7 linked regions of the Homo sapiens genome follow. The protein of the gene in region 3 interacts with the protein of the main gene of each other region in a biochemical or structural test. Each region holds a gene or a part of one and is shown on either strand. Other genes may lie near its edges.

The links.
Region 1: the proteins of HDAC3 (region 3) and RUNX1 form a complex in vitro, tested with the Homo sapiens proteins (one study listed by BioGRID).
Region 2: the proteins of HDAC3 (region 3) and MAPK11 form a complex in vitro, tested with the Homo sapiens proteins (one study listed by BioGRID).
Region 4: the proteins of HDAC3 (region 3) and HIF1A form a complex in vitro, tested with the Homo sapiens proteins (2 studies listed by BioGRID).
Region 5: the proteins of HDAC3 (region 3) and BRMS1 form a complex in vitro, tested with the Homo sapiens proteins (one study listed by BioGRID).
Region 6: the proteins of HDAC3 (region 3) and RUNX2 form a complex in vitro, tested with the Homo sapiens proteins (one study listed by BioGRID).
Region 7: the proteins of HDAC3 (region 3) and SYK form a complex in vitro, tested with the Homo sapiens proteins (one study listed by BioGRID).

Annotation. Positions count from the first base shown.
Region 1 is NC_000021.9:34,790,803-34,795,292, forward strand, and holds part of RUNX1 (runt-related transcription factor 1), read right to left. Parts: intron 1,809-4,490; coding exon 1,333-1,808; 3' UTR 1-1,332.
Region 2 is NC_000022.11:50,266,986-50,272,087, forward strand, and holds the start of MAPK11 (mitogen-activated protein kinase 11), read right to left. Parts: upstream 3,396-5,102; 5' UTR 3,308-3,395; coding exon 3,192-3,307; intron 965-3,191; coding exon 835-964; intron 643-834; coding exon 584-642; intron 498-583; coding exon 386-497; intron 302-385; coding exon 272-301; intron 190-271; coding exon 142-189; intron 64-141; coding exon 1-63. UniProt on the Homo sapiens protein: Serine/threonine kinase which acts as an essential component of the MAP kinase signal transduction pathway.
Region 3 is NC_000005.10:141,626,425-141,630,914, forward strand, and holds part of HDAC3 (histone deacetylase 3), read right to left. Parts: intron 3,702-4,490; coding exon 3,620-3,701; intron 3,493-3,619; coding exon 3,436-3,492; intron 3,316-3,435; coding exon 3,260-3,315; intron 2,883-3,259; coding exon 2,749-2,882; intron 2,216-2,748; coding exon 2,135-2,215; intron 1,789-2,134; exon of another isoform or gene 1,764-1,788; coding exon 1,690-1,763; intron 1,534-1,689; coding exon 1,469-1,533; intron 1-1,468. UniProt on the Homo sapiens protein: Histone deacetylase that catalyzes the deacetylation of lysine residues on the N-terminal part of the core histones (H2A, H2B, H3 and H4), and some other non-histone substrates.
Region 4 is NC_000014.9:61,739,976-61,744,465, forward strand, and holds part of HIF1A (hypoxia-inducible factor 1-alpha), read left to right. Parts: intron 1-529; coding exon 530-652; intron 653-779; coding exon 780-1,213; intron 1,214-4,490.
Region 5 is NC_000011.10:66,338,930-66,342,552, reverse strand, and holds part of BRMS1 (breast cancer metastasis-suppressor 1), read left to right. Parts: intron 1-311; 5' UTR 312-318; coding exon 319-457; intron 458-929; coding exon 930-1,020; intron 1,021-1,219; coding exon 1,220-1,347; intron 1,348-1,506; coding exon 1,507-1,586; intron 1,587-1,682; coding exon 1,683-1,779; intron 1,780-2,339; coding exon 2,340-2,432; intron 2,433-3,623. UniProt on the Homo sapiens protein: Transcriptional repressor. Down-regulates transcription activation by NF-kappa-B by promoting the deacetylation of RELA at 'Lys-310'. Promotes HDAC1 binding to promoter regions.
Region 6 is NC_000006.12:45,540,908-45,545,397, reverse strand, and holds part of RUNX2 (runt-related transcription factor 2), read right to left. Parts: intron 182-4,490; coding exon 116-181; intron 1-115. UniProt on the Homo sapiens protein: Transcription factor involved in osteoblastic differentiation and skeletal morphogenesis. Essential for the maturation of osteoblasts and both intramembranous and endochondral ossification.
Region 7 is NC_000009.12:90,895,576-90,899,796, reverse strand, and holds the end of SYK (tyrosine-protein kinase SYK), read right to left. Parts: coding exon 4,197-4,221; 3' UTR 1,248-4,196; downstream 1-1,247. UniProt on the Homo sapiens protein: Non-receptor tyrosine kinase which mediates signal transduction downstream of a variety of transmembrane receptors including classical immunoreceptors like the B-cell receptor (BCR).

The sequences.
Region 1 (4,490 bases), on a different chromosome or scaffold from region 3:
TGCTATAATCGTAACCCCTAAATTCATTGATTTGGTTCCTATGTAAATGTGGCTCCCCTACACAGTTTACTTTGGCTGTGTTCTGTTACACAGCATCTGTGAAATTATCAGATGACCTTGGGGTGAGCAAATCCCTGGGCAGAAATCAAATCCTCTCCAAAGATGTAATTATTGGCACCTGCCTCAACCCTCTGGAACTAGATTGACCTTCTCTGTTTTAAGGAGGAAGTTAGATATGAGACCCTTGTTGAGCCTGGCAGAAAATTCCATACTTCTGATCCTTGGAGTGACCCTCAGTGTCTAAAAATCCTATTAAAAACGTTGCTGCGTGAGCTACTCACTTGTTTGATTAACATGAAAGGGAGTTTAATGTAAACAATACTTCTGGATAACCAAGCGATCACATTACTCATTCTTTTTTTCTAGCCTTCTTCAATGTGATACATTTAACTTTGGCTACTATCAAGAACAAAAGAAAATGTAGTACTTGATATTTTTCTTAATATAAGTACATTTAAATAATTAAAAAATTATCAACACATAAATGTCTGAACATCAAGATACATAAATATCTGGGGATTCCTTGTGGGAATACAGTAGTTAAAAATGACCCAAAGCTGTAGCTGTTTCTCAAAAAAACAAAACAAAACAAAAAAAAACAACTACCCAAAAGTCCAAAAGAAAAGTTAAATAAAACTTAAAGAAAAGGGAATCATATTTCTTTCCATGGTCAAAGCAAGAAAGAAGCAAGCTCAATTTATATATATTTATATAAACGTATATAAAAATAAAAACCACCCAAATGCAAATACGCATTTTGCAATTGATAAGGTGCGGAAAAATTAAAAATAAGAATTAGATGCCAAACAGGGCGAGTTGCATCCCTCCTCTCCCCCCACCCCAACCAAAATTCCACACTCTTTGGAATAAACAACTTGGTTAAAAAGTTAAGTCAAGGGTATAAAATCTTTCTTTTTATTCACAGCATTGCTAAATCAGAAGCATTCACAGTTTCCCTCCGGGAATCTTCCTGTTTGCTTTCCAGCGCGTCCCCTGGGTGCTGGGGCCGGCGGACACCCTCGAGGTGCGTCGCCTCGGACACCTCCGCGAGGGCCGGGGCGCCAGCAGACGGCGGCGGCGTGGGCTTCTGGGCGCAGGAGGCTGCGCGGGCCTGACCTACAGCGAGATCCTGGCCGTCGGGCGCCCTCGGCCCCAGGACGGTGGCCGGGCCCAGGGCCCGGGATCCCGGCGGGCTTGTCGCGAACAGGAGGCCCGCGCGCCCGGAGGCGAAGGCGGCGGCCCGCGGGGCCCAGCCGGGCCAGGCCTGGCGCCTCAGTAGGGCCTCCACACGGCCTCCTCCAGGCGCGCGGAGGGCGCCATGTTGGTGGGGGAGTTGCTGTGGCTGCCCTCGGCCTCCACCACGTCGCTCTGGTTCGGGAGGCTGGGGTTGAGCAGCGCGGAGCCGGTGGAGGCGTTGGTGCAGGGCGGCAGGATGCGCGGCGGCGAGCGCTCGCCGCCCACCATGGAGAACTGGTAGGAGCCGGCCGAGGCGCCGTAGTACAGGTGGTAGGAGGGCGAGCTGGCTTGGAACGGGCCTCCCTGCGCTTGCGACGAGCCGGGGTAGGGCGGCGGCAGGTAGGTGTGGTAGCGCGTGGCCGAGCCCATGGCCGACATGCCGATGCCGATGCCCGAGGTGACCGGCGTCGGGGAGTAGGTGAAGGCGCCTGGATAGTGCATGCGGGGGTCGGAGATGGAGGGCAGCGCGGGGAACTGGCGCGGGTCGCTGAACGCTGTCAGGTCGGGTGCCGCTGCAGGGCGGGCAAGAGAACGGAGCGGAAGTGAGTAGGAGGTTGCGGAGGCCACAGCTCTTCCCTCTGCCCCAGGGGGCTACCCAGGATGATACCGCCTAGGAGGATGGGAAGCCACCCAGGATGCTACTGCTGGGGAGGACGGGGACCACCCGGGATGCTACTCCCAAGAGGACGAGGATTACCCAGGATGCTATACCCAGGGGGACAGGGACCACCCAGGATGCCACCTCCTGAGATGACGAGGATCACCCAGCATGTCACCTCCCAAGAGGATGGGGACTACCCATGATGCTATGCCCAGGAGGTCGGGGACCACTCAGGATGCCACCTCCTGAGAGGACGGAGACCACCCAGGATGACACCACCTGGGAGGATGGAGACCACCCAGGATGCTACCGCCTAGGAGGACGGGGGACACCCAGGATGCTACTGTCCAGGGAGATGGGTTTCTATCAGAATTTACCGCCCAGGAAGATTGGAACCACACAGGATTGCTACCACCTGGGAGGATGGGGGCTACTGAGGATGCTGCTGCCTAGGGAGAGGGTTTCTACCCAGAATCTGCCACCCAAAAAGATGAGGTCACCCAGGATGCTATGCCCAGGAGGACGGGGATCAGGAGGCTGCTACTGCCCAGGAGGATGGTATAATATACAGTAATATAATACGGTAATATAGAATATCATGTAATGTAATATGACATGATATATGAAATGATGTAGTATAGCATAATATGTATAGTATAGATATAATGTGCAATAGTATATACTATAATATGTATAACGTATATAAAATGTTGATATAATCCTAGGGTTGGCAAACTGCAGCCTGCCAGCCAAATCTGGCATTTTTGCATGTCCCAGGAGGTAAGAATGCATTTTACATTTTTTAAATGGTTGAAAAAAAAATCCAAAAAAGAATACTTCCTGACCTGTTAAAATGACAGGAAATTCAAACTTCAGTGTCCATCCATACTTCGGAACACATCCTCACTCATTCTTTCATGTACTGCCTGTGGTTGCTTTAGAGCCACTACTGTAAAGTCAGGTGGTCAGTATAGGGACTGCAGGAGCCACAGAGCAAATATTTATTCTTTTTTTTTTTTTTGGAGACAAAGTCTCGCTCTGTCACCAAGGCTGGAGTGCAGTGGTGTGATCTCGGCTCACTGCACCCACCACCTCCTGGGCTCAAGCAATTCTACTGCCTCAGCCTCCCGAGTAGCTGGGATTACAGGCGCCCGCCACCAGGCCTGGCCAATTTTTGTATTTTTAGTGGAGATGAGATTTCACCACGTTGGCTAGGCAGGTCTCGAATTCCTGACCTCAAGTGATCCACCTGCCTCAGCCTCCCAAAGTGCTGGGATTACAGGCATGAACCACCGTGCCCAGCCCTAAAATATTTATTCTCTGGCCCCTTACAGAAAAAAGTTTGCTGACCCTCTATTTGATCAATATATTAATATACCAATAATATAAATTAATCTGTGATATTAATATAGCAGATGATAATTTGACACTAATGTAAAGGATGCACAAATATGTTACTACTAACACAATATGTTATACATAATATATATCCTAACAATATTAATATATAATAATACATTACACATAGTATTTAGGTTGAATGATAGAAAATTGCCATTTTTATAGGCCTTCGACAGTTGAAAAATTGATAATTTCCTAGTATTTAAGCGAATGCATGGCTCAGTAGCAACTGCTGAGCGAATGTCAGGGAATACCATTACCACTCCTCCTCTCCATATCTACTTTCATACTAGTTCCACAATTTTAGAAACAGTACTGCCTTGAGTTCACCTGGTATTCTCTATTATGCACTTCACTAGTTTGTTAACACAAGTAGATGTAGGACCTTGATTTATCTACTCTGTTTTTTGCACATGTGGAAATTTTACCAGAAATTGTAAAGCTTTGTCTCTAAAACTCACTTTGTTACGACTGTACATTATTTTGTTAGGATTATGGATTTACAGTTTCACCAACTGGCTTTAGGGCTGTCCTGTGGTTCACTGGCTCTCTCTGCATTTTTCTTACCTACAGGCCGCCCTTGGGAACTACGGAGGATTTGTGTATTAGGCAGGGTTCCCTATATCTGTAGATCAGAGTTTCTCAACTGTTGACACTGTTGACATTTTGGGCCAGATCATGATTTGCTGGGGTGGAGGGGGCTGTCTCGTTCATCGTAGGATGTGTGGCAGCATCTCTGCTTTACCCATTAGGTGTTAGTAGCATCGCCCGCCCCTCTTGTGACAACTCAGAATGTCTCCAGACATTGCCAGATATCCTGCGGGTGGGGTGACGGAAGCAAAGTCACCCCAGCTGAGAACCACCACTGCAGATGTAGAAGGGCACCCTGGAGAAGTTCAGGTTCCTTAGAATTATTCATTAAATGACCAGGCTAGGACTCTCCTCTTTATATCAGCAAATCCACAGACAGCAACAAACAGTAGAAACATGAATTCATTGTTTTAAAATGTGAAGTTCTCAGATCAACACACAAAATAACTCTTAAGCTCAGATGGCATGTGGCCTGTGTCCTTTTGAGTTCAGGCTGATAGAGAAAGTCGACAGAGCCAAAAGCTTGCTCTGAAAGGAAAGCTACCAAGGTGGATTAATCTGTTTTTGGAAGGCAGCGGCAGTTGATCAACTTCCTCATATT
Region 2 (5,102 bases), on a different chromosome or scaffold from region 3:
GCGCGTGGCCACATAGCCGGTCATCTCCTCGTCCGCCTGGCGCGCCAGCCCAAAATCCAGGATCTGGGGCGACCACGTGGTGTTCTCAAGCTCCGCACGGGCTCCGCCGCCGCCCTGCCCACCCCTGCCCACGGGCCTCACCCTGAGCTCACAGTCCTCGTTCACAGCCACGTTGCTGGGCTTCAGGTCCTGCAGGTCACGCGGAGCGTGAGCACAGGAGGCTGGGACGGAGCCCTGCTGGACCCGACCCTCACCCTGCGGTCGCACCTACCCGGTGGATGATCCCGGCCGAGTGGATGTACTGCGGGAGGGGGATTGTGGTGAGCGCCGGGCCCGGCCCGCCCGCCCCCCTGCGAGAGGACCCGCGAAGCCCAGGGCGCCCCACCTTCAGCCCGCGCAGCAGCTGGTAAACCAGGAATTGAACGTGCTCGTCGCTCAGCGCCTGGCACTTGACGATGTTGTTCAGGTCGGCGCCCATCAGGGTGGTCACCAAGTACCTGGGGCGGGGTCAGGGGGTCAGGACAGGGCCCCACCGCCCCACCGCGAACGCGCTCCCCGCTGCCTCGCCCGCCCCGCCGCTCACACTTCGCTGAAGTCCTCGATGGACGTGGCCGGCGTGAAGACGTCCAGAAGCCCGATGACCTAGGTGGCGGGGGGCGTCAGGGCCGGGCGACGAACCCCCGGCTGTCGTTCAGCTCCCCCCGGGCCACGCCCCCAGTGCCAGGCCGCGCCCCCTGTGTCCCCGCCCCCATCGCCAGGGCTCGCCCGCCTATTGGCTGCGCCGCGGCCCCGCCCCCGCACGCGCCCTCCCCCCACGGCCCTCCCCCGGCTCACGTTCTCGTGCTTCAGGTGCTTGAGCAGCCGCAGCTCCCGGTACGTTCTGCGCGCGTGGATCAGCGACTGGAAGGGGCGCGACAGCTTCTTCACCGCCACCTTCTGGCGCAGCCGGGCGTCGTAGGCCGAACTGGAAGGCGGGCGAGTGAGGCGGCGCCGGGAGGGGTCCGAGGGCGGCCGCACGCGCGTGGACCCGGGCGGCGTCCCTCTCGCCGCTTCTCCGTGGGGATGGGGCCGTGGGGCTTTTCTGCCCCGGCCCCGCCGCCCCAGCTCGGCCTCCCACCCTCGGGCCTACCCACTCCGCGCTTGCTGGGAAGGAGCCCCTGGGGCTGGACCACCATGCGTGTGTTCACCCCACAAGGTCCTGGACCTTCTCTGTCCCCTGGCCCCACTGATTCCCACGCTCAACCAGGGGCCCCCATTCAAAGCAAGGCTGGGGGAGAGGTGCCCCATCCAGCGTGGAAAAACACAGCAGGAAAACAGTCACTGGCATTCACCTGCAGCAGACGGGCCTCCCTCTGCCCCATAGACCCCATGGGCCCAGGAGGCTCACAGAGGGGGATTCTAGAGCCACCTCAAAGCCCCTGGACCCCTGGTGCCTCCGAATGTTCAAAATACGGAGGGAAAGTTGGTCAGAGGTGTTTATTGCATCATTATTTGGAACAAAACCGGGACAGAAGGTGATGTACAGCTGAGGGCGTCAGCTGGACCCACAGAACAGCCCTTCGCCCAGCCCCACTTCCCAGAGGTCCAGACCCTCTACCCTGCACCAGCTTCCTGAGCCCACCCTCCCTTTGCAGGTGACCCTCATCCCACCCTCCCATGTCCCACTGCCCTCAGCCCTGCTAAAGGAAAGGCCTTTGCACAGCCTGTTCCCTCTGGCTGATACTTGCTTCTTCTCTCCCTCCCACTTCTGTCTCTTGGGATCCTGTCTCAGAGCAAGTGGAGGCTGAGGCCACCCCCCATGCCCACACAAGGGGAGCAGGAGCGGCTCCTGCTGGGTCTGGGATGCTCATGGGCGCAGGTCGAGGTGCCTGGGGCAGCCATGCTCCCAGCCTATGACCAGGGAAAGGTGCTCCTGAGGTGGTGAGGGGAGTGGCCCTGCACGTGGGGCAGCAAGTTCTTTTGGCCAATTGCATCTGTGCGGTCAGGTGACAGGGAATTGGCACCTGGCCCGCAGCCTTGGCAGTGGAACTAAGAAAATGGGCCAGGGGTGCAAGGGGGGAGACCAGGCCTCACTCAGAGAACCGGACACCTCTCAGCAACTCCCAGACGGCGAGTCCAGCCATGACCCACCCTAGTCCCCTATGGCCACTCCCACACCGTCCCAGACCCTCTTCCTGCCCTTCAGGTCTCAAAGAGGAAGACAGATCTGTGCTGGCATGATGGCTAGAATGACCCACCTACAGCTTCTGATGGAAGGCTAGGGACCACACCAGAAGACAGCCTGCCCTGGGACCCCCGGCCCCTGATGCCGGCTCCTGAGCTCCAAATCTGGTGGGCCTAGAGGTCCCACTTCCAACCTGCAAGTGCCTGGGGCAGAGCTCTGCCCTGGCTGCCTCTGCCTTTGCGCCCCACCAGGACCCCCCAGTGGGCAGCAGCTAAGCGGCATTGGCCATGGTGAGGACTCAGCTGCACCTCTCAAAGCCTGTACCCATGATCAGCCTCCCAGTCAACATGGAGGCTGAAACTTAGGACTCCCGGTAACTACCTCACCCTAAGCCCCTCCAGCCCTGGCTACCCGGGTCTAACAGAGACCTTGGCCCAGTTGACCCCCCTCCCCCACCCAGACTCTGTCGTCTTCCTGGGCCCCAGGCCAGGTCCTCTGGCCCCAGGGCCTAAGTGGGGTTTGTGGTCTGAGGGGGAGTCTGAGGCCATCCCAGGGGGAGAGATCTTGGCTTCCGGGAGCGGGGCTTCCCTTTTCAGACAATAGCCCCCAGCCCGGGCGGGGGAGGGTCATCCGCTAGACCCCGGGGGGCTGCCTGACCCGACTCAGTGAATCTCAGGTGGGTGCTCAGACGTTTAGGGGCCCGGACATCAGGGTGGCTCGGGGCTCGGTCGCGTGAGACCCACCCTCACGCCAGCTGTGACCTCCCAGGCCTCAGGCCTGGTGGGGAGCAGTCCGAATCGGGAGAGGCCGGAGGACCCCCCTCCCTCCCGGTAACGGCGTCTGCTTGGAAAGTTTCTTTACGCCGCCACCCCCGCCCCCCCATTCATTCCTCAGATCCGCTTGGCGCCCGGGGGCGGAGGCAGGGCGAGGCCCCTCCCCACGCCGAGAACCTCGCGCGGGCGAGGAGGGGACGCGCTCTCCGGCCCGGCCCGGCCCCCACCCAGCACCCCTTCTGCCCCGCCCCTACCAGACGGAGCCGTAGGCGCCGGAGCCCACCGGGCGCAGCCCCTGCAGCCGCTGCGGCACCTCCCACACGGTCTTGTTCAGCTCCTGCCGGTAGAAGCCGGCGCGAGGGCCCGACATGTCCGGAGCAGCCGCCGCTCCGCCCGGGCCCAGCCCCGCGCCCCGCGCCCGCGCCCGAGCCGAGCCCGAGCCGAGCGGAGCGGAGGGCGGCGGAGGCGGCGGCGGCGGCGGGCGGGGCGGGGCTCCGGGGCGGGGCCGGGAGGCCCGGGCGGATTTCCCGGGCTGGGTGGCCGGGGCGTGGGGGGGTTCCCGGAGACAAATGCGCTGCTTCCTGCGCCTCGGAGGCGGTGGCAGAGCGGAAACCAGCCCTCCCCTTCCCGGGGGGGGCGCCGAGGGCGGACACCTCCCTCCGGCTCTCACCTCTTGGGGGCCGCGCGCTTCTCCAGACTTGCGCCCGCGTCTGGGCTCGGCCCGGGCTTCCCTACCCCGGCGGCGCCCTCCCCAACGAGGGAGAACCGTCAAAAGCGAAGAAGCCAGGGGTAAACCATGGGAAGTATTTTTCAAGACAGAAATATGAATAGCACCTTCTAAAGACTCGGCACTGGATAGGAAAATAAGCCGAAAGGCGTTGGGACAGGGCCGGCCTGGCTTTCTTGCGCAGGACCTGCAGGCCTTGGTCCGCGGTGCGCCCCGGGAACCTTCCAGGCCTCCTGCCCCGGCTCGCCCTGACCTCCCCTCTGAGAGAGGCGCGACCGCTGGACTGTCAGGACCAGGGACAGCGGCGTCACCCCGGGGCCTTCCTACCCACAAGCAGCGGCCCCAAACGGATCCTTTTTGCTGCCCAGAACCTTTCCTCCTCCTTAGCGGCCACCTCTTCTAGGAAGCCCACCCTGACTATCCCAGGTCCGAGGAGCCGCCTTTGGGTGCAGGGTCCTTGAAGTCAGCCCCGCGGGCGGGCAGGCGCGGGGGGCTGCCTTGGCGGTGACGGGGGCAGCGCCCCACTCGGCGTCTCTGCCGCGCTCGGGGCCGCACAGCTACTTTTATTCCCACTTGAAAGCGACCGGGGCTCGGCGGAGCATTGCTCCCTGGAACACCGGCCACCGACCTCCGCCCTGGTAGAGCCGTGGTGGGAGGCTTCGCGGCTGGGCGACCCCCTCCAGCGAAGTGAGAAATCAGGATCCCAGTGGCCCAAAACACTCCTTTTTTAAAACACTAAAATCCGAGTTTTAATGTCAAATCTGATTTTTATATATCGGCAACCAAATTAAAACAGCCAGCACGGTGCTGGCCACCGGACCCATGCGGACCGCGGCGAAGGAACGGGTCTCAGTCCCAGCCGCTCCGGCCCCTTTTGCATGACCAAGCCCCGTGCCTCAGTTTCCCCATTGGAAGCCGGCATCCGGCTGGGGGCCTGGCGCGGGCCCGGGGATGGCCCCTCTCCTCGCTCGGGCTGGGTTGGGGCGAGGACACGGGCAGCCTCCCCGAGGGCCCCCGCCCGGGAGCGCCTTTCACTGGGCCCGGCCGAGGCGGGCCGAGGTTTTGTGCAGAGTTAATGGAGCTTCAGCTAAAGGAGGAGGAGGCCGGAGCGCAGCCCCGGAGCTGTGGGAACCGCGGCCGCGGCCGCCGGGGGAGGGGAGCGGCCTTTGTCTGCGCCGCGGCCGGGCGGGGCGGGAGTCGGGTTCCCATGGCGACCGGCCCCGCCCCTGCGCCTCCCCGTGGACTGGGCGGCTCCGTTCTCGCCCCTAGGGTGGGGGACATGGAGGTGGGGAGGTGTCAGGCTTCCCCCAGGCGTCCGCCCGCAATCCTCGCGGCCTCGCTGCAGGCCCCGGCCGCTCAGCAGGTCAGGCGGGCGTGTGGGGTGGGGGTGGGGGCGGGGGGCGGTGGAAACGGGCCCCTCTCATCACTGAGCTGACCT
Region 3 (4,490 bases):
CCCTTAAGATTTGGGTATACTTTATATGCTGTGTCTCAATAAAAATTTTAAAATAAAGCACAGTCCCCCCTCTGTTCTGCTCAACACCCTCCCTGGCACCCTGCCTGCTAATCAACTATTCTCATCAACCCAAGTTCTGTCAATTCTAGCCTTGAAAATATAACTCACGCCCGGCGCGGTGCTCACGCCTTTGTAGTAGTCCCAGCTACTCAGGAGGCTGAGGCAGGAGAAATGCTTGAACCCAGGAGGCAGAGCTTGCACTGAGCCAAGATCGTGCCACTGCACTCCAGCCTGGGTGACAGAGCAAGACTCCATCTCAAAAAAGAAAAAAAAAAACATATATATGTGTGTGTGTGTGTGTATATATATATATATACACACACACACACACACACCTCTCAGATCATCTACTTCTCTCCATTGCCACCCCCTCCACCTTAGTCTGGGCACCTAACCAACACCATGGCTTCCTAACTGGTCTTTCTACTTCCATCTCCATCCCCCCTACCCAAACCTTTCTCTATTCAGCAGTCAGAATTGTCACTTTCAAACACAAATTGGATCATGTCACTTTCCTGCTTAAAATCCTTCAATGGTTTCCCATCATCTTTGGAATATAATTCAAACTCCTTACCAGGGTTTAAAGGCTCTGCACAATCTCACCATGGCCAGCTTCTCGGACCTCACCTCAACAGACTGAAGTCCAGTGGCACAATCATAGTTCACTGTAACCTCAAACTCCTAGGCTCAAGTGATCCTCCTGCCTCAGCTTCCTGAGTAGCTAGGACTATAGGCATGCACCATCATGCCCAGCTGATTTTGTTTTTTATTTTCTGTAGAGATGGCTCTCACTATGTTGCCCAGGCTGGCCTCAAACTCCTAGCCTCAGGCGATTCTCCCACCTTGGCCTCTGGAAGTGTTGGGATTATAGGTGTGTGCCACTGGGCCCAGCCCTCAGAGCCTTTTGTGGGCCTTTGTCCATGCTTGGGTCAGGCTTCTCTCTGCTCCTCTTATGACTCACTCCTTCTTAGTCTCCAGGTCTCAACTCAAATTTTACTTCCTCAGAAAAACTTTCCGAAACCATGCTATCTCAAGTAGGTCCCCCATTGTATCCTGTGTCTCAGCTTTCTTTTTTTCTTTCACAGAATTTATAAGAATCTATTTATTTCATTTGATTATTTATTTTTTGTCTGTTTCCTAAACTGTAAACTCCATGGGAGACTCCTTATTCCATCCCCATGATGTGGTATGATGCCTGGAACATAACAGGTGCTTAATAAAAATATATCGTGAATGAATGACCATCTAGGGAACCCTGTTCAAGATGACATTTCTAGTTCAAGTACAATTTGTAGCTATTTTTGATTTCCAAGAAGAGGTGAGGCCCATTCCCCAACTACCCCCACCCACGTACTGAAGTCCAAGGCCACTTAAAAACCTTGGGGAGAAGAAGGAGAGCAAGTCTCACCCATGCCCTCGGATGCTGAGGTTAAAGCAGCCCAATCGATCACAGCCCAGAGAGTCAGCTCCACACTGCAAAAAGCAAAACCCCAGGAAAGTGCAGTGATCAGAACTGATCAGAACATCACAGATACCCCTTCCACCACCAACCTAAAGAACCTCCTCTTCCCTTGCTCTCTTTCCCCAAGCCCAGGCAGAACACTCCTGAGGAGGAACTGACAGTATTACCTGGAGCACAATGCACGTGGGTTGGTAGAAGTCCACTACCTGGTTGATAACCGGCTGGAAAAGGTGCTTGTAACCTGGGAGAGGGCCAAAGATGGGCACCTGGCACCCCAAGGGGATGGGGAGACAGGGAACAAAAGGAAAAAGGGGGTTGAGCGAGCATGTAGCCCAGGAAAGGGGCCACCCAAAAGAATCAAATCACTGGTCTGAAACTTCTGGAAGGGATCCCAGACTGCTATGAGTGACTGATGAAAGCCAATGACTTTTCCCAGAAAAATGCACATACACATGATATGTTGCATACAATTTCCAGAGATTCATGGTCCCTCTGAAGGCCATTCATCCTTAAGGACAACTGGCCCAACAGCAGACAATACCAGGCAGAAGAGGTTATTTCAAGGAGAAAAAGAAGGGGCCTAGGGAACAGAGGGAAGACTTCGGTACTTACTCTGGTCATCAATGCCATCCCGCAGGGGCACGTTCAGACAGTAGTAGCGGCCACTCTCTGCCCCGACTTCATACATGTCACCTGTAGGGAAGTGGGTGGTGGTAGCCACACATGGGAAGCACCCACAACCCAGCTGTTTCAGCCCCAATCTGCACTCTGGGAGCCTCTCATTCCATCTATGTAGCTTCACCATAAACTCCCTAGAGCCACTAAATCTCTTGCAGCTTGCATTCATTGGGCAAATAGTTTTGGGGGATCCACTCTGAGCCAACTGTGTACTAGGCAGTAGGGATGCAGCAACGAATGGAACTAATGAAATTTACGATATCCCACCACGCTTATATTCTTAGGGAATAGCCATGAGGAGGAGGGAGGCAGTAAACAAAACAAAACAAAAAACCACAATAAACACAAATAGCAGTGAGTGTTCTGAGGGAAACAATGAGGCTGATGTAACAGAGGAATGGGGAAGGAGGTGATTATGATAACTGGAGTGGTAAGGAAAGGCTTCTCTGAGGAGGGGACACCTGAGATGAGACTAGAAGGCTGAGAAGGAGGCACTCATAGTAAAGAGCTGAAGGGTGCAAAGGGGAAAGTAATCCCTATTCCCATACCTGTGCCAGGGAAGAAGTAATTTCCGTATTTGTGGAAGGACACCGTCATGACCCGGTCAGTGAGGTAGAAAGCTTCTTGAACCCCGTCACCATGGTGGATGTCAATGTCAATGTAGAGCACCCGAGGGTGGTACCTAGAGGGAAGCCAAAGCCAGGGTCTGAGCTAGAAGTGAACCCCCCAACCCACTCCTCTCAAACACCGGGTCTCGAATTGTGAAGAGTCTGCTTCTGCCCTGGTCACCTGAAACTTAATGTCACCAGTTCCCTAAAGGCAACTGGGGGCTCCAGCCTAGAGGCTAGAGGCAGGGACAGGAGAGGGATATGCAGAGAAGGCTGAAATGTGAGCAGGCAGTAGGGAATCTGCAGCAGTGGAAGAGGCAGCCTGAATAAAGCATCAAGAACTTGGGAGAAGCTAATCAGGGAGGAGGGAGGTCAAGGTCAGGGTTGAGACTGAGAGACCTCCTCAGCCAAGAATCCCGTAACTGCCCCCATCTCCTCCTGGGCTACTTACTTGAGCAGCTCCAGGATGCCAATCACAATGTCGTTGACATAGCAGAAGCCAGAGGCCTATGGCAAGACAGTGGTCTCATAAAGAGAAGAGCAATTCCCCTCCCAGCTGCCCCCCACCATCATCCTAAACACCTACCCTAGGATGGCCACTGTCTTTCCCATCACCTCCTCACTCACCTCAAACTTCTTGGCATGGTGCAGACCACCAGCCCAGTTAATGGCAATATCACAGATCTGAAAGACAAACACCTAAGTCACAGTCCTTCCTGCCCACCCCTCAAGCTGGGAGCCCAGGATCAGGGTTAAATCCCGAGTCCAGGGATCCAGAGGAAAGGAAGAACAGGACTCGGGACTATGTCACCTTGTTGTTCAGCTGGGTTGCTCCTTGCAGAGATGCGCCTGTGTAACGCGAGCAGAACTCAAAGAGCCCGGGAAACACTGGGCTGCAGGGAAGAGGAACAAGTTGGAACCCTCCTGCCTCTGTCTGGGCCCTTCCCATATCTCCCTCCCCATCCTAGATTCCTCCAATCTCCATTTTTCAAGAACCTTCTCTCCCTCTCCTACACACGTGGGCTATCTGCAAATTTATTCAACAAATATTTTGGACCAAACCATGTACCAAGCCCTGTGCAAGGCACTGGATGGGAAGTAAAGAAGCACTTAACTGTCAGGGAGTTTGTATCCTAGCTGCGGAAAGAAGCAAGCAGCTTCCAGGTACTCAAGTACAATGTAAAAAGGAAATCAGTTGAAAGAAAACATGAGCTCTGTTTTTCTTAGTCTTCTCAGTGTAACAAATTTTAGCATAATGTTCAATAATATTTTTCAGTCACATATTTTAAAGAAAGAACTGTATACCTACATATGTGAAACAGTGATGAGATAACCCACGAAAAGCCTGTAGCACAGTATACAGTATCCGCTCAGCCTTTAATAAATGTCAGCTATAATTATTACCATTGTTATTCTTTATAAAAAGTAAAGGCTTGAAGCCAGACACAAAAGCCTACTTACTGTATGACTCCATTTATGTAACATTCTGGAAAAGGTAAAATACAAGGACAGACATCTTATCAGTAGTTGGCTGGATCTAGGTTGCAGAGAAGTTATTAACTACAAAAGGGTGAGTGACCTTTGTTGGGTAGTGGAAATTTCCTGTACCTTGATACCTTTTTTTTTTTTTTTTTTGTAGAGACAGGGTCTCACTATGTTGCCCAAGCTGGTCTCAAACTCCT
Region 4 (4,490 bases), on a different chromosome or scaffold from region 3:
AATGATGTTATATTACATAGTCAGAAATATATATATTGGCAAAATTAGTTACCAGTATAAGCTTCAAAATGTCACTATTTTCACAAATTTTTTTTTTTTTTTTTTTTTTTGACATGGAGTCTCACTCTGTCGCCAGGCTGGAGTGCAGTGGCATGATCTTGGCTCACTGCAACCTCTGCCTCCCAGGTTCAAGTGATTCTCCTGCCTCAGCCTCCTGAGTAGCTGGGATTACAGGCGTTTGCCACCATGCCTAGCTAATTTTTGTATTTTTAGTAGAGACGAGGTTTCACCATGTTGGCCAGGATGGTCTCGATCTCTTGACCTCATTATCCCTCCACCTTGGCTTCCCAAAGTGCTGGGATTACAGGCGTGAGCCACTGAGCCCGGCCTAGTTAAATAAAATTTGATAAACACGATGGACTTGGTTGTGTGTTTTCTGGTTTTTCTGAGATCTAGTTTGAAAATTCTGACAACTAGCAAAGTATATGGAAGCTTCTTCAGGAAATAGTAAACATATTTCTTTTTACAGCCTAATAGTCCCAGTGAATATTGTTTTTATGTGGATAGTGATATGGTCAATGAATTCAAGTTGGAATTGGTAGAAAAACTTTTTGCTGAAGACACAGAAGCAAAGAACCCATTTTCTACTCAGGTATATGAACTTATTTGTTTTATATTAAATTTCATTAATTTTTAGTCTGAAGTGACTTTGAGTTTCACTTGTTTTTTATTTATAAGGTGTGGCCATTGTAAAAACTCATGTATTTGCTGTTTTAAAGGACACAGATTTAGACTTGGAGATGTTAGCTCCCTATATCCCAATGGATGATGACTTCCAGTTACGTTCCTTCGATCAGTTGTCACCATTAGAAAGCAGTTCCGCAAGCCCTGAAAGCGCAAGTCCTCAAAGCACAGTTACAGTATTCCAGCAGACTCAAATACAAGAACCTACTGCTAATGCCACCACTACCACTGCCACCACTGATGAATTAAAAACAGTGACAAAAGACCGTATGGAAGACATTAAAATATTGATTGCATCTCCATCTCCTACCCACATACATAAAGAAACTACTAGTGCCACATCATCACCATATAGAGATACTCAAAGTCGGACAGCCTCACCAAACAGAGCAGGAAAAGGAGTCATAGAACAGACAGAAAAATCTCATCCAAGAAGCCCTAACGTGTTATCTGTCGCTTTGAGTCAAAGGTATTTATATGTAACATTCAAGTTATAGTTCTTTTATTATTTTTGAGATAAATGTATGTGATAGTACATGATTTTTAAACTTATAGCAAACTTTCTGATATATATGCCCTAACGCAAATTCTTGAGAACTCAAAAAACTTTCTAAATTAACCTCATATATTTTTTCTTTTTCTTTCTTTTTTTTTTTTTTGAGACAGAGTCTCGCTTTGTCGCCCAGGCTGGAGTGCAATGGCATGGCACCATCTCAGCTCACGGCAACCTCTGCCTCCTGGGTGCAAGAGATTCTCCTGCCTCAGCCTCCCGAGTAGCTGGGATTACAGGCATGCACCACCACGCCCGGCTGATTTTTTTGGTATTTTTCATAGAGACAGGGTTTCTCCACGTTGGTCAGGCTGGTCTCAAACTCCCGACTTCAGGTGATCCGCCTGCCTCAGCCTCCGAAAGAGCTGGGATTACAGGTGTGAGCCACCATGCCCGCTCCTATTTTTTCTAAAATAATTATAAATTCTAAAATTACCTATCTAAATGGAGGAGGGTCTTCTGACACCTTTAAAATAAAATCCAGCTCAGTACTGTAAATGTGTTTACAGAACTTGTTTAAAGTTCTTACAGTTGTTTAAATCAGACTAGTTAACTACCCTCACTACTTAGATGCTTCCATTTCTTAGAGCTCTTTTTTAAGCTTATCTGAAGAAAAGCCCTTCCAATTTAAGGGTTATTTCCAATTGCACATTCCAAATTGAGCCTTCCATCTTCAGCATTCAATATAGATATTTACAGGCCCCTCTTTTAAAATTTTATTATAGTTAACTTGTATTAAAGTTGCTTTTATTTTTCATTACGTATTTGTAGAACATTAGCTATATATATATTGCAGGCTACATAGGTTTTCAAACTGTACAACAGGAATCTAAGCATGAATTGTTACTTCTATGGAGCTAGTTCAAACAAACATATGGACATGACCCAATTTTTAAGTTATACTTTCTGTATATAATTTGTAAGGGGATTTCACATATTTTAAGTTTGAGGCTATAGCTAGAAGAAATTAAGTTTTATCTAATAAGTGTGTGGAAAAGGGAAATGATTCCTTCTCTACTATGTCTAGACTAAGCCAGATATCAATAGCAATAGGAAAGAACCACTGTCGTAGCCAGAACACATAGCTTTTTTCCCTGCCTAACATTCCCACCTTGACCTAGAGTGCTGGGAGAGGTCTTTTCCCTAAGCTTGGAAAAGACATTGGGGCTTTAGATGAACTCAGAAGTACTTTACATTACTTTATTTACTGTGTCACTTACTCACTTTTGACTCTGAGCTCCACGAGGGCAATCACAGTGTCTTGGGCATTTTAGTGATACTAATACTTAGCTCATGACCTAATGTGTAGTACTTCCTCAATAAATGGTTGTTGAGGCAGGGCGCAGTGGCTCATCACTGTAATCTCAGCACTTTGGGAGGCTGAAGCGGGTGGATCACCTGAGGCCAAGAGTTTCAGACCAGCCTGGCCAACATGGTGAAACCCGGTCTACTAAAAATGCAAAAATTAGCTGGGCGTGGTGGCACGTGCCTGTAATCCCAGCTACTTTGGGAGGTTGAGGCAGGAGAATTGCTTGAACCCTGGAGGTGGAGGCTGCAGTGAGCCGAGATCGTGCCATTGCACTCCAGCCTGGGCGAGAAGAGTGAAACTCGGTTTCAAAAAAAAAAAAAAAAAAAAAAGTTGTTGGACTGACAGATGCATGAATACAGTAGTAAAAATGACAATCACTTATAAGTTACAGTTTACTATCAGCTACAGAGGATGGGATATCCAGTTTTCTGAACAACTGTTCTCTTGTACTTGTCAAAGCCAAAGTGTAACAACACATCAAGTCACTTTAGCAATTTATTTTTGAGACGGAGTTTTGCTCTTGTTGCCCAGGCTGGAGTGCAATGGCGTGATCTCGGATCTTGGCTCACCGCAACTGCCGCCTCGCTGGTTCAAGCAAATCTCGTGCCTCAGCCTCCCGAGTAGCTGGGATTACAGGCATGCACCACCACACCCAGCTAATTTTGTATTTTTAGTAGAGACAGTGTTTCTCCAGGTTGATCAGGCTGGTCTCAAACTCCCGACCTCAGGTGATCCACCTGCCTCAGCCTCCCAAAGTGCTGGGATGACAGTTGTGAGCCACTGTGCCCAGCTAGCAACTGTTTTTAAACATTAGTTCCAATGTAGTGTACACTGAAAACTTTTATGAAAGGAATTTCAAAAATTAAGATAAACCATTAAAAACGTAATTACTAAGTACTACTACTACTACAATGATATTTACATAATAGACTGAGTTACATTTCATAAAGACAATATATCTGTATAAGAATTTTTAAACTTCCCTGTCTATATAATAGAAGTTTTAGAGAAATTTTTTAAAAACCAAAGAAAACTGCAAAATAAGATCACTTACCTATTTGGCATTCTCAACTGTCTGGAACAGCAAGGAGCCATTATGATTATGCATTTGGTTTGTGGGGTGTCTTGAAAAGTCAAAATAATGTAACAAAGCTGATGTACTTTACTCATTAGAACAATTCTTCACAATTTAATATTAATTTTAGATATACATAGTTCATGTTTGATAACCAGATCAATACTGAGTGAAAAATAGCATAGTGGGAAGAGCAGGGGAGGGGAGGTAGGGATCTGGAGACCTAGAGTGTACTTCCATATTGCAACTAGTGAGCAGTAGGACTTTGAGAAAGTTACCCAATAGGCCTCAGGGTTCTAATTTATAAAATGGGTATGATATGCCTGCCTTATCTGTCTTGGGAACTTAAGTAAGGTTAAAATGAACTAATGAACTTGAAATGTTTTATAAACTGAAAATGCTATACGAATGTGAGATTGATCTTGTATTTCAATAGTCCCAACAATATCACTGCATTGTTATATTAGGTGGAATAAAAGGACAATATTTAACTGTTTTGACTCTACAATAGTGTCAATTTAGTTGTGTTCAGCTCTATTTTATAAAATAGGGATACGCATACTGTAGAAAATTTCCTGTTAAATTAAGCTTTGACGGCCAGGTGCTCACGCCTGTAATCCCAGCACTTTGGGAGGCCAAGGTGGGCAGATCACTTGCGCTCAGGAGTTTGAGACCAGCCTGAGCAACATAGTGAAATCCTGTCTCTACAAAAATATGTATATATAAATTAGTCATAATCCCAGCTACTTGAGAGGCTGAGGTGGGAGGATCACTTGATTCCAGAGGCAGGGCTTGGTTGCAGTAAGCAGAGA
Region 5 (3,623 bases), on a different chromosome or scaffold from region 3:
AGTTGCAAAGGCAGTGGAGAGTGCCCCCTGGGCCTTTCCTTTCTGTGGATCACAGCCTTGGCCAGTATTGCTAGGATTAGGATCACCAGTGACATCCAAGAGCAGGAGCAGTTCCACAGCTCCCAGCCTTCTGTGAGAGGTGCAGATGGCCATTTGCACCCTTGTCACCCAGTTTGTGCTCAAGGTGTGGCCAGGCCAGTTACTTCCCTGGCTTTCCCCATCTGGGATCGAGTTGTGTTCAGCATCCTGCTGCCTCTTTCCCCCTCTGAGCTGTGGGCAGCCATAAGTGATAGCTCCATTCCTTCTCCCAGAGTCCAGATGCCTGTCCAGCCTCCAAGCAAAGACACAGAAGAGATGGAAGCAGAGGGTGATTCTGCTGCTGAGATGAATGGGGAGGAGGAAGAGAGTGAGGAGGAGCGGAGCGGCAGCCAGACAGAGTCAGAAGAGGAGAGCTCCGGTGAGCCCCTACACACACAGACACACACACACACACACAGAGCCCCTACACACACACATGCACACACACAGCCCCTACACACAAGCATGCACGCACATGCACATACAGCGCCTACACACAAGCACATACACAGACCCTGCACACAAGCGCACACACGCACACACAGCCCCTACACACAAGCACGCACACACAGCCCCTACACACAAGCACGTATGCACACACACAGCCCCTTCACACAAGTACACGTGCACACAGCCCCTTCACACAAGCACGCACGCATATGCACACACAGCCCCTACACACAAGCACACACGCACACACACAGCCCCTTCACACAAGCATGTACGCGCACACACACACAGGCCCTACACACAGGCATGCATGCACACACACACATGCAGGACGCACATGCACACATGCGGGTACCCACCACTCCTCCCCAGAGCTAGCCCTTACTGGCCTCTTGTCCCAGAGATGGATGATGAGGACTATGAGCGACGCCGCAGCGAGTGTGTCAGTGAGATGCTGGACCTAGAGAAGCAGTTCTCGGAGCTAAAGGAGAAGTGAGCGTGGGGACACCTTGGGCTGGGTCTGCGAGGATCTGGGATGAGGAGGTGGTGGGCCTGGTACTGGGCAGGCGTGGTTGGTGCCCAGGAAGTGCGCGCCTAACACCGGGCTTGCTGTGGAATGGGTGCTGGGTATGTGTTTGCCCAAGAGCGATGGGTGAGCAAATGGGTGCACGGCTGCCTTTTTACCACGCAGGTTGTTCAGGGAACGACTGAGTCAGCTGCGGTTGCGGCTGGAGGAAGTGGGGGCTGAGAGAGCCCCTGAATACACGGAGCCCCTTGGGGGGCTGCAGCGGAGCCTCAAGATTCGCATTCAGGTGGCAGGTCTGTGGGTGGTTCTGTACCCTCTTCCCCTCCCAGAACCCGTGGCACCCTGTCCCCTTCCTCTCTCGTTCCTGCCCGGCCTTGCCCTTTGCTCTCAGCCCTCCTATGTGGGCACCGGGCTCCCCAGCCAAGCAGGGACCCTCCTCCCTTTCTCTGCAGGGATCTACAAGGGCTTCTGTCTGGATGTGATCAGGAATAAGTACGAATGTGAGCTGCAGGGAGCCAAACAGCACCTGGAGGTGGGCCTGATTGGGCACACTGGGGGTGAGGCAGGGCACAAAGCCTGAAGTGGCCTCACCCCATCCGTCCTGCTGAGCTATTGCCCCCTCTTCCAGAGTGAGAAGCTGCTGCTCTATGACACGCTGCAGGGGGAGCTGCAGGAGCGGATCCAGAGGCTGGAGGAGGACCGCCAGAGCCTGGACCTCAGCTCTGGTAAGCGCGAGAGCCTGGGCACCCCGGAACTGGGCCCCGCTCAGTCCACGCCCACCCCTCTTTGGGCTTCAGATGTCCTGAAGTCAAGGGGACAGCCAGAGGACCTGCCTGTTGGGGTCAGTGTGAGGGCTGAAGGAGACCAGGCCTGGAAAGGGCCTGGCACATAATGGGGGCTCAAGCAGAGTGGGTCTCCCTGCCTCTTCTGCCCCTGCTCTTTCCAAAACAGGTATCAGTGTGACATGCAGTCACATGCAATAGCTCTAGTCCCCTCCATGTTCATAGTACCTGTGTTCACGTGGAGTCCTGGGGTGGCAGGAATTGTCGTCATCCCACTCTCCACTAAACAGATGAGGCTCACAGAAGTGCAGTGACCTCTTCCCAGGGTTGTGCAGCTGTGCAGGCAGGACCTGAACAGCCCTAAGGGGCTTCTACCCCAAGCCCAGGGTGGTGATGGGACAGGGGAGATGAGGCCAGGCCGGCCCATGGTGGAGGCAGAGGCTACAGAAAAGGGAGTATCCTGTGGGCCAGCACCCCAATTCTAACTCTGGGTCTCGGGGCAGAATGGTGGGATGACAAACTGCACGCCAGAGGCAGCTCCAGGTCTTGGGACTCCCTGCCGCCCAGCAAGAGGAAGAAGGCACCTCTGGTTTCTGGTATCCTTTCACCCAAGGTGGCCTAAAAGTGGGCAGGATGTAAGGGTCAACTCCAGACCCAGGGGAGGGGGTTGGAGGGGACATGGAGGACAGTCACACTAGATGCACTCGTGGTTGCTTGGTGTCATGTGAATATGTCCAGGCAAATCCAGCTGTCAGCAGTTTCTTACGGGGTCCTGGGTCTCTCTGGGCTATGTGAACCCTAGGAAAACAGAAACGGGCTGGGCTCCGTGGCTCACATCTACAGTCCCAGCACTTTGGGAGGCCAAGGCGGGTAGATTGCTCGGGCCCAGGAGTTCTTTTCGAGACCAGCTTGGGCAACATGGTGAAACCCATCTCTAGAAAAAATAACAAAAATTAGCCAGGCGTGGTGGTGTGCACCTATAGTCCCAGCTACTCTGAAGGCTGAGGTAAGAGGATTGCTTGAGCCTGAGAGATCAAGGCTGCAGTGAGCCGTGATGGTGCCACTGCACTTGAGCCTGAGTGAGGTTTGGCCTTTGAGGCCTTTCCATCTCCCGGGGTTGTCCGAGCGGGTCCCCAGCTTTCCCTGGGGAGCCTTTGCTCATATCCCACCCTCCTCTTGGAAGTCCTGCCTGTCCCGACTGTCCAGGGCTCATCTCAAACGTTACCTCCTCTGTGAGGCCTCTTCTGGTCTTACCCTGGTGCCTATGGCTTCACTTTCCTGTGTGCTTCTGTGCCCTACCATGGGGTACCCACATCCCAGAGGGCACTGGCTGCCTCCACCCCTTCCTAGGCAGGGCTAGCTTAAGCTTAGTCCAGGGCCTGCTGTGCTTTCATCTGTCCTGGCAGAGCTGAGTCCTCCTGCACCCCTGAGGGTATTCCTGCAGCAGCCAGTCTTAGTCATTATGGCAACCTGGTGCTGGAGAGCAGGCCCAGGCAGGGAGGGAGGAATCTGGAAGGCCATGACTTGAGTGAATGGAAGGTGAAGGCATGGAGACATCAAGTAGGGAGCACTGGGGGAGGGAGAGTTGTCTCTGAAGGGATAAGCCCTGCGTCTGTCTTTGGATCAGGGAAGGGGCCAGGTTAGGGCCAGTGCTGCAGAGTGAGATGGGATGGGCCTCAGCCAGCTGACCTAAGACGAGGTGAGGGTGAGCAAGGGACAGGGAACAACATTTGGTGTCCTCCATAGACTTGGTTCCAGGACGACCCCTGGAACCAGGGGGTTAAGAG
Region 6 (4,490 bases), on a different chromosome or scaffold from region 3:
AAGTGACTCTTTAAAAGCAACATATAGTTAACAAAACTCACAAATCGGACAGTAACAACCAGACAGCCCAGCCCAGCCCAGCCCTGCCCAGCCCAGCAATTGTTAAAAGTCTCACCTGCCTGGCTCTTCTTACTGAGAGTGGAAGGCCAGAGGCAGAAGTCAGAGGTGGCAGTGTCATCATCTGTAAAATGAGGGGGATGAGCTCTAAGTTCCCTTCCAGCTCTAATGTTCTATGACTATGAATTCCAAGAGAGAAGGAGAAGCAACAGCCTTAGGGGAGGGGTAGACAGAGAGGTTCCCATCCCTCATTAGTATTTCCCAGAGTCTGCAGGCCCATAAGCAGAGGGTAAAAGCTAGTGAGCAGCTTCTAAGGCCAGAAGCAAACACTTTCAAGATGAAGAACCAAAACTGACAGCCCAGGCAGTCACTCTCTGCTTTTTATAAATTCTTCCATCCTCAACTAGCCTCTACCTATTCCTCCCAAAAACGAAATTCTGACAAGCTTAAATTTAAAAATGTGGAAACAGCGATTATGACAGAATCAGAAATGGGAGCAGATGCTCCATAACATTTCCCCCGCCCAGTGCTTGTGCCCTGCCTCGTACAATACAGAGGCCAAATGGAGGCCACAGACGTTCCTCAGGCAGCCTCTGCATTGCAGGGCATCCAGGTGACCTTGAGCTGGCAGAACTAACAGCGATGGGCAGGGCACTTCTGTATGCATTAAGTTCAATATTTAGATCATATAAGAAGAACCAGAATAATGTGAACAGCGTGTATCAGAAAGAAGTCGCACTTAAAACGCCAACGTGTGCCCCCTGCAGAAGTATGGAGTTCACACAGATAGACATGTTAATGTAAAAACTGCTTCTTAGGTGTATCTGTACTTAAAATACACTGCAGTAATAATTACAATTCCGTATGGTTTCACTTATTTTGATGCAGAAGCCTCATTAAAACTCTTTATGTGGGGCCCTGGCAGTAAACTCCAATATGGTTTTGAATTTACCCCTCCCCACTCCTTCCTCTCAATTTTACCTGATACATTTTGCTGATGTTTTTATTGCCCATCACATGCCAGGATCACTGTACCTTTTTGGTTTATAGATGCTAGCTAACACAAAATGACATTTGTTTTTCAATTAATGAGCTCTGGTTATGGTTTATAGAAAACAATGCAACAAATTTCCGCTAGGTTTACAGTATTTTAACCAATCACTTCTAGGCATTTGAGTCTTAATGTCTTGAGAATGGACTCTTTCTTGATAAAGAGCGCTAATGTTGACTTGAAAGGGATTATAGGATGATTTTTCAACTTACAAACAATAGAATTTTCTGGAATTTGCTTAGTCACTTTATGTTACCAAGAAATGTTCCTGAAACATTTTGCAACATGTTCTCTAGGAAGAAATAGTAACAATTTGCTCTAGTACCATACGAGATCCCTTATAAAATAATCATGATAAGGTGGTGGGAGAAATCCTAAACTTAAAAGAAAGACTATAAACTCCTTCCTAATCTTCAAATTTTTAAATAATAATAGTTACAGAAGCAAATAATATCCTTAAATTTTCTTTCATTGAATAAGGTTGTGTCTGTGCTTCCAATGTCTGTTTTGTACATGAACTCAGGTTTTCTTTTAGAACCCCTGCTTGGGCTATTTTGACATTGTATCCTAAACTAGTCATCCTTGTGTCACCAACCACATTGTAGCCACAAACTTACCAACATAGAACTAACTGGATGTTACATCAACTAAAGTAAGCAAAATATAAGTTTGACTTATTAAGAGTCCATATTATGAAGGCCTAGAGTTCTAAAAGCAGTGCAACCCCAATCTGATTTTCTAAATATAAAACCAAAGCTCAGCCACTCCCCCAGTGATATGCCTGGTACGCTCAGAGCTCCCAAGAGCCAGTTTAAAACTCATGACTACAACTTACTGGATAGATAAAGCCAAAGGTGGTTTGGGGACCTTTTTAAAATAGCAAGGAACAACTTGCACAAGTCCATTCTTTTTGCTGTTATCCATGTTATCTCCTCCATATACAAAGTACATTCGGCTATTAGGCTTTGCTGAACAGTGGAGAAGTTGAGAGTGCTATAGCCAACACTAGATCACTTGGTGCGAAGAGTTTCAAAATGGTATGTGCCTACATCTTCCTGGGGGACTGCCAGGAGTTACTAGAAGCCCAAGATAATCATCGTGCATTTTCCTGATGGGTTGGTTTTACTCAACTTGGGGAAAATAATACACTATACAATAAACATGAATATGATGTGGAGGAGAGTGCAACATTTATGTGAATTTTTAGATAAATAAAAAATGACTTCAACAAAATTTTGCTCTTGTAAAGCTTTAGGCTATGATCCGAGATCCCCCAAGGTACTCAAATACTCCTTTATGCTGGTTGAGGAACTCTGATGGAAAAGTCTAAACTCTTAATTTGCTGCTTAGGTAATGCAAATCTAACCCCTGTTTGACAAATAGGAAAGCTGGTATCTAGAGAAAAGAAGCCATTTACTCAATATCACAAAATCACAGCCACAGCTAGACAGACCTCTTTGACTTCTAACAAAGGATATGCTATCTTAGTTACCCTTAAGGAATTTGGTTAACATGATCACAGGTCTATCTACATACACATACACACCTGCTATCTTAGAAGTTGATTTGCCTAAATGAAAAATACTCAAAATATCTCAAAATACTTAAATTGACTCTTCTACTGCCTAAGTGTTGCCCCAGTGAGAGTTCCTATCTTTGGGATATTATTAATAACTCTTTTAGGCCTTGTTGATCTAATCTGCTAAATAATGGGCAATTAGTTTGGTTGCTCAGGGCAACATGTGAATGAGACCAAGGTCAAGGGTATGATCCCCTTAGGACCTGCTGGCTTCCTACAGATGCATTTCATTCCAAAACTGCTGTCTACACCCCTAGCCAAAGCCAAACAGCTTGCAAACAAATGTAGCTGTCATAAAAAGAGCTGCAAGAACTTTGCTCATTAAAATAGTAACAGCAGCGGCAGCAGCAATTTTTCACAACCTAATATACACAGGAAAGAATATATTAATAACATTTCCATGGAGCACAAATAAAAATAAAATCACTAATAAAAATTAAAACATCTTGCCCCTCCTCCCAAGGTCTATGAGGGAAAAGGAAATAGCCTCTCTTTACCCAACTAGGTTTCTTGGGTCTTCAAGTGGAAAGTGTGTGAAACCAAGATAAGAGGGAATCAAACAGAATGTCTGATCTTCAATTTTCAGGGCCGGGAATCCTCCCTGTGGCATCTTTCACACACTGTTTTCGAATGCTGCTTATCCTGAGTCACGTTTGGCTCCCACTGAGAGTGAGCTGTGGAGGGTAGAGAAGTGTCTGATACTTCTTTGCCTCCCCTTCAGAACTTCATAACAGTCACACCTGTTTGACATTTGAAGGCCTTTACTTTAACATACATTTTCTCATTGACTAGGCCCCCAATAAATATGGTTGGTTGACGGAAAATGGGTAAGGAGATCTCTAGAACAAAAAAGAAATTGGAATTTGACCAAAATAACAGACCGGGTACTTGCCATTGGGGCTGTCAGCTGGGAAACCCCATGCCCCATGTCCTCTTGGCCTCTGTGCAGTACATTCACACATCCCAGCAGAGCAGGCAGGTCAGGGCAGAAAAAAGGAAGGGGGGCCTTGAATCCAGACTGAACATATGCTGGCATATTCAGAGTCCTCTGCCCACTTTATGTGAGGGGATAAAGGTACAGAATGAAAAGCCATTGTACTTCTCAGCAATGAGGTGTTAACTTCAAAGCTTCATTGGGGCCTTTTAAATGGTAGGAGTTATTGCTTCAACAAATCTCAAATAAATCCGAAGGACGTTTTATTAACCCCTCTCAGAGTTCTTTCTATTGGAACATGTAATACACAAGACCTATGTGGAGCTGCTCTCCCCTGGTAACCAAGAATCTTCTCCCCCTTTTAAACGTTTTGGCTGCCCCCTTCCCAACAGCTCTATTATTTAATTTCCTATTTTACTTCCGTTCCAATAGCATTTATTTTCTATATCACTCTTTTGGACCCTTACTCACTCCCTTATTGAATTATTAGCTGTTTCTTAGTCTGTTTTCTCCAACTATAAAGTCAGCTTTGGATGGTAAAGAATATGTTTTCCTCTCATATCCCTCTTGGAACCTAGTACATTGTAAGAGGCTAAAATGAAAAAAAAAATGTCAGTGCATGGTTGGATGGATAAATGAATACGTAAATGAGTCTAAGGATTGGGAACTCTGTACAATAACTCTGTACAGTTTTAACACAAAAGGAAAAGATATGAAAAGCATTGAGCAATGCTGACATCAAACCTAAAATGTAATTCAAATACATTCCATACCTATAAAACCTTATACAACTCTCTTTAAAGAGCATTCAAAGCTATTCCCAAGCATTATTGCATCACTTGACCTCACATTGCAGACAGGAGCCCCCA
Region 7 (4,221 bases), on a different chromosome or scaffold from region 3:
TTCAGTATGTGCGGTGGTGTGTGCGTTTTGTGTGTGTGTGCTTGCGTGGTGTGTGTGTATGGCATAGTATGTGTATGCGCAGTGTATGTATGTGTGTGGTGTGTGAAGGTGTATGTGGTATGTGTTTGGTATGTGTATATGTGTACTGTGTGGTGCATGCATGTTCTGTGTATTTGTGTGCATGTGTATGTATGTGTGCCCGTCTCTGCATATGTGTATGTATATGTGTGCATGTGGGTACAGGTGTATGTACATGCATGCACATGTGTGCACATGTGTGAATGCATGTGTACATTTGTGCATGTGCTTATGTGTGTGGATGCATGTGTTCATGTAAATGCATGCATTTGTGCCCATGCACATGTGTATGTACATGTGTGCATATACATGTATGCACTGACATATATGCATGTGTGCATATGTACACGTGTGCATGCCTTCTGTGCATGTGTGAATGCATGTGTGCATGTGGATGTATATGTGTGCATGTCTGCGCATGTGTGTAACCTCCTTAGAACAGGCAGAAATTGGGGCTCTGGAATCCTTTCTTTGCCTACCGCAGTTCCTTTTAGGCTGTCTTCATAGAGAAAGGGATAGCTCAAAACCCACAGCCCTGCTTTGGCCTGATGGGGGATTTCTGGGTCTCCTCAGTCTGTCTTTTATTAGGCAGGCCATGGGCTGTCAGGCCCTGGCTGGGTAGATGCTCTGCTCATGAATAAAAGATAGAGGCAGGGCAGGACAGGGCCCTCCCTGATGGGCCTCCCCGCCGTTCTGTGTGGTGGAATCTCACAGTCAACTTTGACCTGTGCACATCCACTTTTTTTTTTGAGATAGGATCTTGCTCTGTCACCCAGCTGGGAGTGCAGTGGTGCCATCACAGCTCATTTCAGCCTCGACCTCCCAGGCTCAAGCAATCTTCCTGCCCCAGCCTCCCAAGTAGCTGGGACTACAGGTGCATACCACCACACCCGGCTAATGTTTTGATTTCTGCAGAGCTAAAGTCTTACTATGTTGTCCAGGCTGGTCTCAAACTCTGGGCTCAAGAGATCCTCCTGCCTTGGGCTCCCAAACTGCTGGGATTACAGGCATGAGCCACTGCACCCGGCCAACACATTCACTTTTTTGGGACATGGCAGGGACTTAATGTTTTAGAAAACATTTAGCTACCCCTTTGACAATGCTGCTTGACACTATTTGACAGTGTGACTTACCACATCCTAATAACTTCCATGAAAATCATCACAAAGCAAATTTTAAATTTTTATTAAAAATCACAGTTTTTAAAAATGTCCAGTGACACAATGTAGCTCTTCTGAAATGAATGGAAAACACAACACACTGCTAACCAGTGGAGGGAGCTCTCTGCAGGGCTGGGAGACCTGACAATGCAGCTGTAGCCTCTGCAAGTGAAAATCCAGGCCGACTTGCAGTCATTGGACTGATGTCCAAGTGCAATCACCATACAGCAGCTACAGGCAGGGCTGGCTGATAGGGAGTATGGGAGAAGGACACGCTCAGATGAAAACATGCATGCAACGATTTTCACCACTGAACACACTGTTTTCTGTGATAGAAACTGTCGGCCCTGCTGGGGGACAAGATATTCACGGCCTCACTAGCCAGTGTGATGCCACCAGGGCAGCCTGCCCCTGATGCTCCTTTGTTACCTGCTAAAGAAGGACCATAAGGTAAAAGGCACCTTACCTTATGGAGTGAGCCCAGACCCCAGGGAAAAGCTTGGGTAGAACAATCCAAGGGGCAGCCTGGGTATGAGAATCCAGCCCAAGCTAGCTGCTCTAGAAGCCTGGAGGCCTTTCCCAGCTTCCCAAATGTAGCCCTTTTCACATGACCAATCCTTCAATTAGGTTACCTTTCTCTATTTGCCCTCCTTGGTGGCTACAGGGGAAAGGATAATTATTCCTGACCACAAGACACATTTTCACTAGAAAAGACTTCCTCGTGCTGGCCACAGTGGGAATTCTGCACACAGGTGCCTGCTCCACCAAGCAGAGAGGCTCAGGAGATTGTCCAGGGACAAGGAGACCTGGCCGGACCTCTGCAGGGAGGTGAGGCCCCTGCCCCCATCTTGTCCCATCACATTCTGGATGTTTGGCATCCCCAGGCTCCTGGGAGGGGAGAAGTGCTGATAAAAAGGCCAAAAATCACACAGAAAGAAGACAGAAAACTCCACGCACTTCCTACATAGGTGCTACCGTATTCCTACGAGCACGGGGCCTGTGTTGAAGACTCCCTCTGGAAGTTACAGAAGGAAGCCACCAAGAGTTCAGCCTCACAGCCTCTTTCTCAGATGCAGTCACCACTTTACCAAACTTGGCACATCCAACCACTCCTTTCATAATTTTACACCTGTTTGTGGCCTGGCTGACAGATATTTTGTCATTGATCTTTCTAATTTCAGGGATTCTAAATGTGTTTTGAGAATCTGCTCAGCACTCAGGGATTCTGTCTTTAAAAATATGATTAAACCACCAGATAGTGTGATTTCAGAAAGTGTGCGTGGCTACCAAAAACTTCTAAACACAAGTTATATGAGTGACTCCTGTCTTCTGTGGCTGAGCTTGGGTACTGATTGTCTTTCTCCATGCCTTGCATCCCCTGTTAGAGGAGGGCCTGCTGTCCATGGCTGTCCATGCACTTTAAAATGTCTCAGGTTTAGCTGAAGACCAGATGGGTCCAAGTTTATTTATATCTGCTGGCATAAGAATGATGGCTAAATTACCTCTTTAAGTTGTTTTTTTGTTTGTTTGTTTTGACAGAGTCTCGCTGTGATGCCCAAGCTGGAGTGCAGTGGCATGATCTTGGCTCACTGCGACCTCCGTTTCCTGGGTTCAAGCGATTCTCCTGCCTCAGCCTCCCGAGTAGCTGGGACTACAGACACATGCCACCATGCCCGGCTAATTTTTGTATTTTTAGTAGAGATGGGGTTTTACCATATTGGCCAGGCTAGTCTCAAACTCCTTACCTCAAGTGATCCACCCGCCTCGGCCTCCTAAAGTGCTGAGATGTCTCTTTAACTTTCAAGAGGTACAGCAAAACTGAAATCAATGGGTGATGACTTCTTAAAGATCAAACATGAAGATGAGGATTAGTTAAGACCAGAAAATCATTCTCCGATCTTGTATCTTCAACTCAAATTCACACTCCAAAAGGCCTGTTTGTGGTGAGGCTCAGGGTCTTTGGCTTGTTCTGAATTAATACTTTCTTTGGAAACTCTTTAGATGGCTTTGATCCCTGTGCTGCCCCCCATTGCAGACACAGAAAGCGACAGGGGATTCTGGCGGCACCCTCTCTGTGGAGGAGAGGAAGGTGTGGACCACGTTCAGAGGAAGGCAGCCTGAAGCTGTCCTCAGTGAGATGCTGGGGGATGGGCCTCTTGCCCCTGCTGTGCAGCCTCCATGCAGGGCTTTATTTACCAGTCACCAGGTCTTCAAGACAGTCTGCAGGAGAGAGGATTTCAGGGGGAAAGTAAGCCAAGCCAATTCATTCTCATGGTCCCCTTTTATCACAAACATGTAAGTCTTCCATCTCATAACAGAGACAGCAAAAGCAGTATCCAGGCCTTTTTTTTTTTTCTTTCTTTCTTTCCTTAACTGGCTACATGCTTAGAAACTGCACTGGTCAAACTTGATTTTCTTTTTAAAGCCTCAAAACATTTTTATTGTCAGGAAAGCTTTTCAGTGGCCAGGGATCAGTCTCATGGCCGTAGAAGCAGCCAAATTCCTCTGCCTTTGCCTTCCCTTCAGGAGTCACATGCTAAGGCATCCTTGGGCATTTGGAAAAGGCCGCTTGGGGTGAGAGTGCTCTAGGCCACTCTGCAATGTCCCTGGGCCCGATGAGTAACAAATGCACCCCGGGACCCAGAGAAGTGGAAAGACATGAAAGGGATTTGGAAACAGATCGTAAAAATAACCTGTATGAAAATCACACAGACAAGAAAACAAACAAATCCAGCTAGCCCCTTGGATCCTGCCATCCGTCTTTTCTCCCGGGACTGCCTTTGCTTTGTGGAGGGTGAGTCCTGGGACAGGCTTTGGGTGACAAGTTGTGGGCATGTTCCATCCAAGCCTGGCTCTCCCGACTGGCAGAGGGAGGTGGCTGACAATCAATTCCTCTGGATACATTTTCCTGTGATTGCTCCTGTGATCAAAGGCAGCCACCGACAGGTGCGGGAGCGGTTAGTTCACCACGTCATAGTAGTAA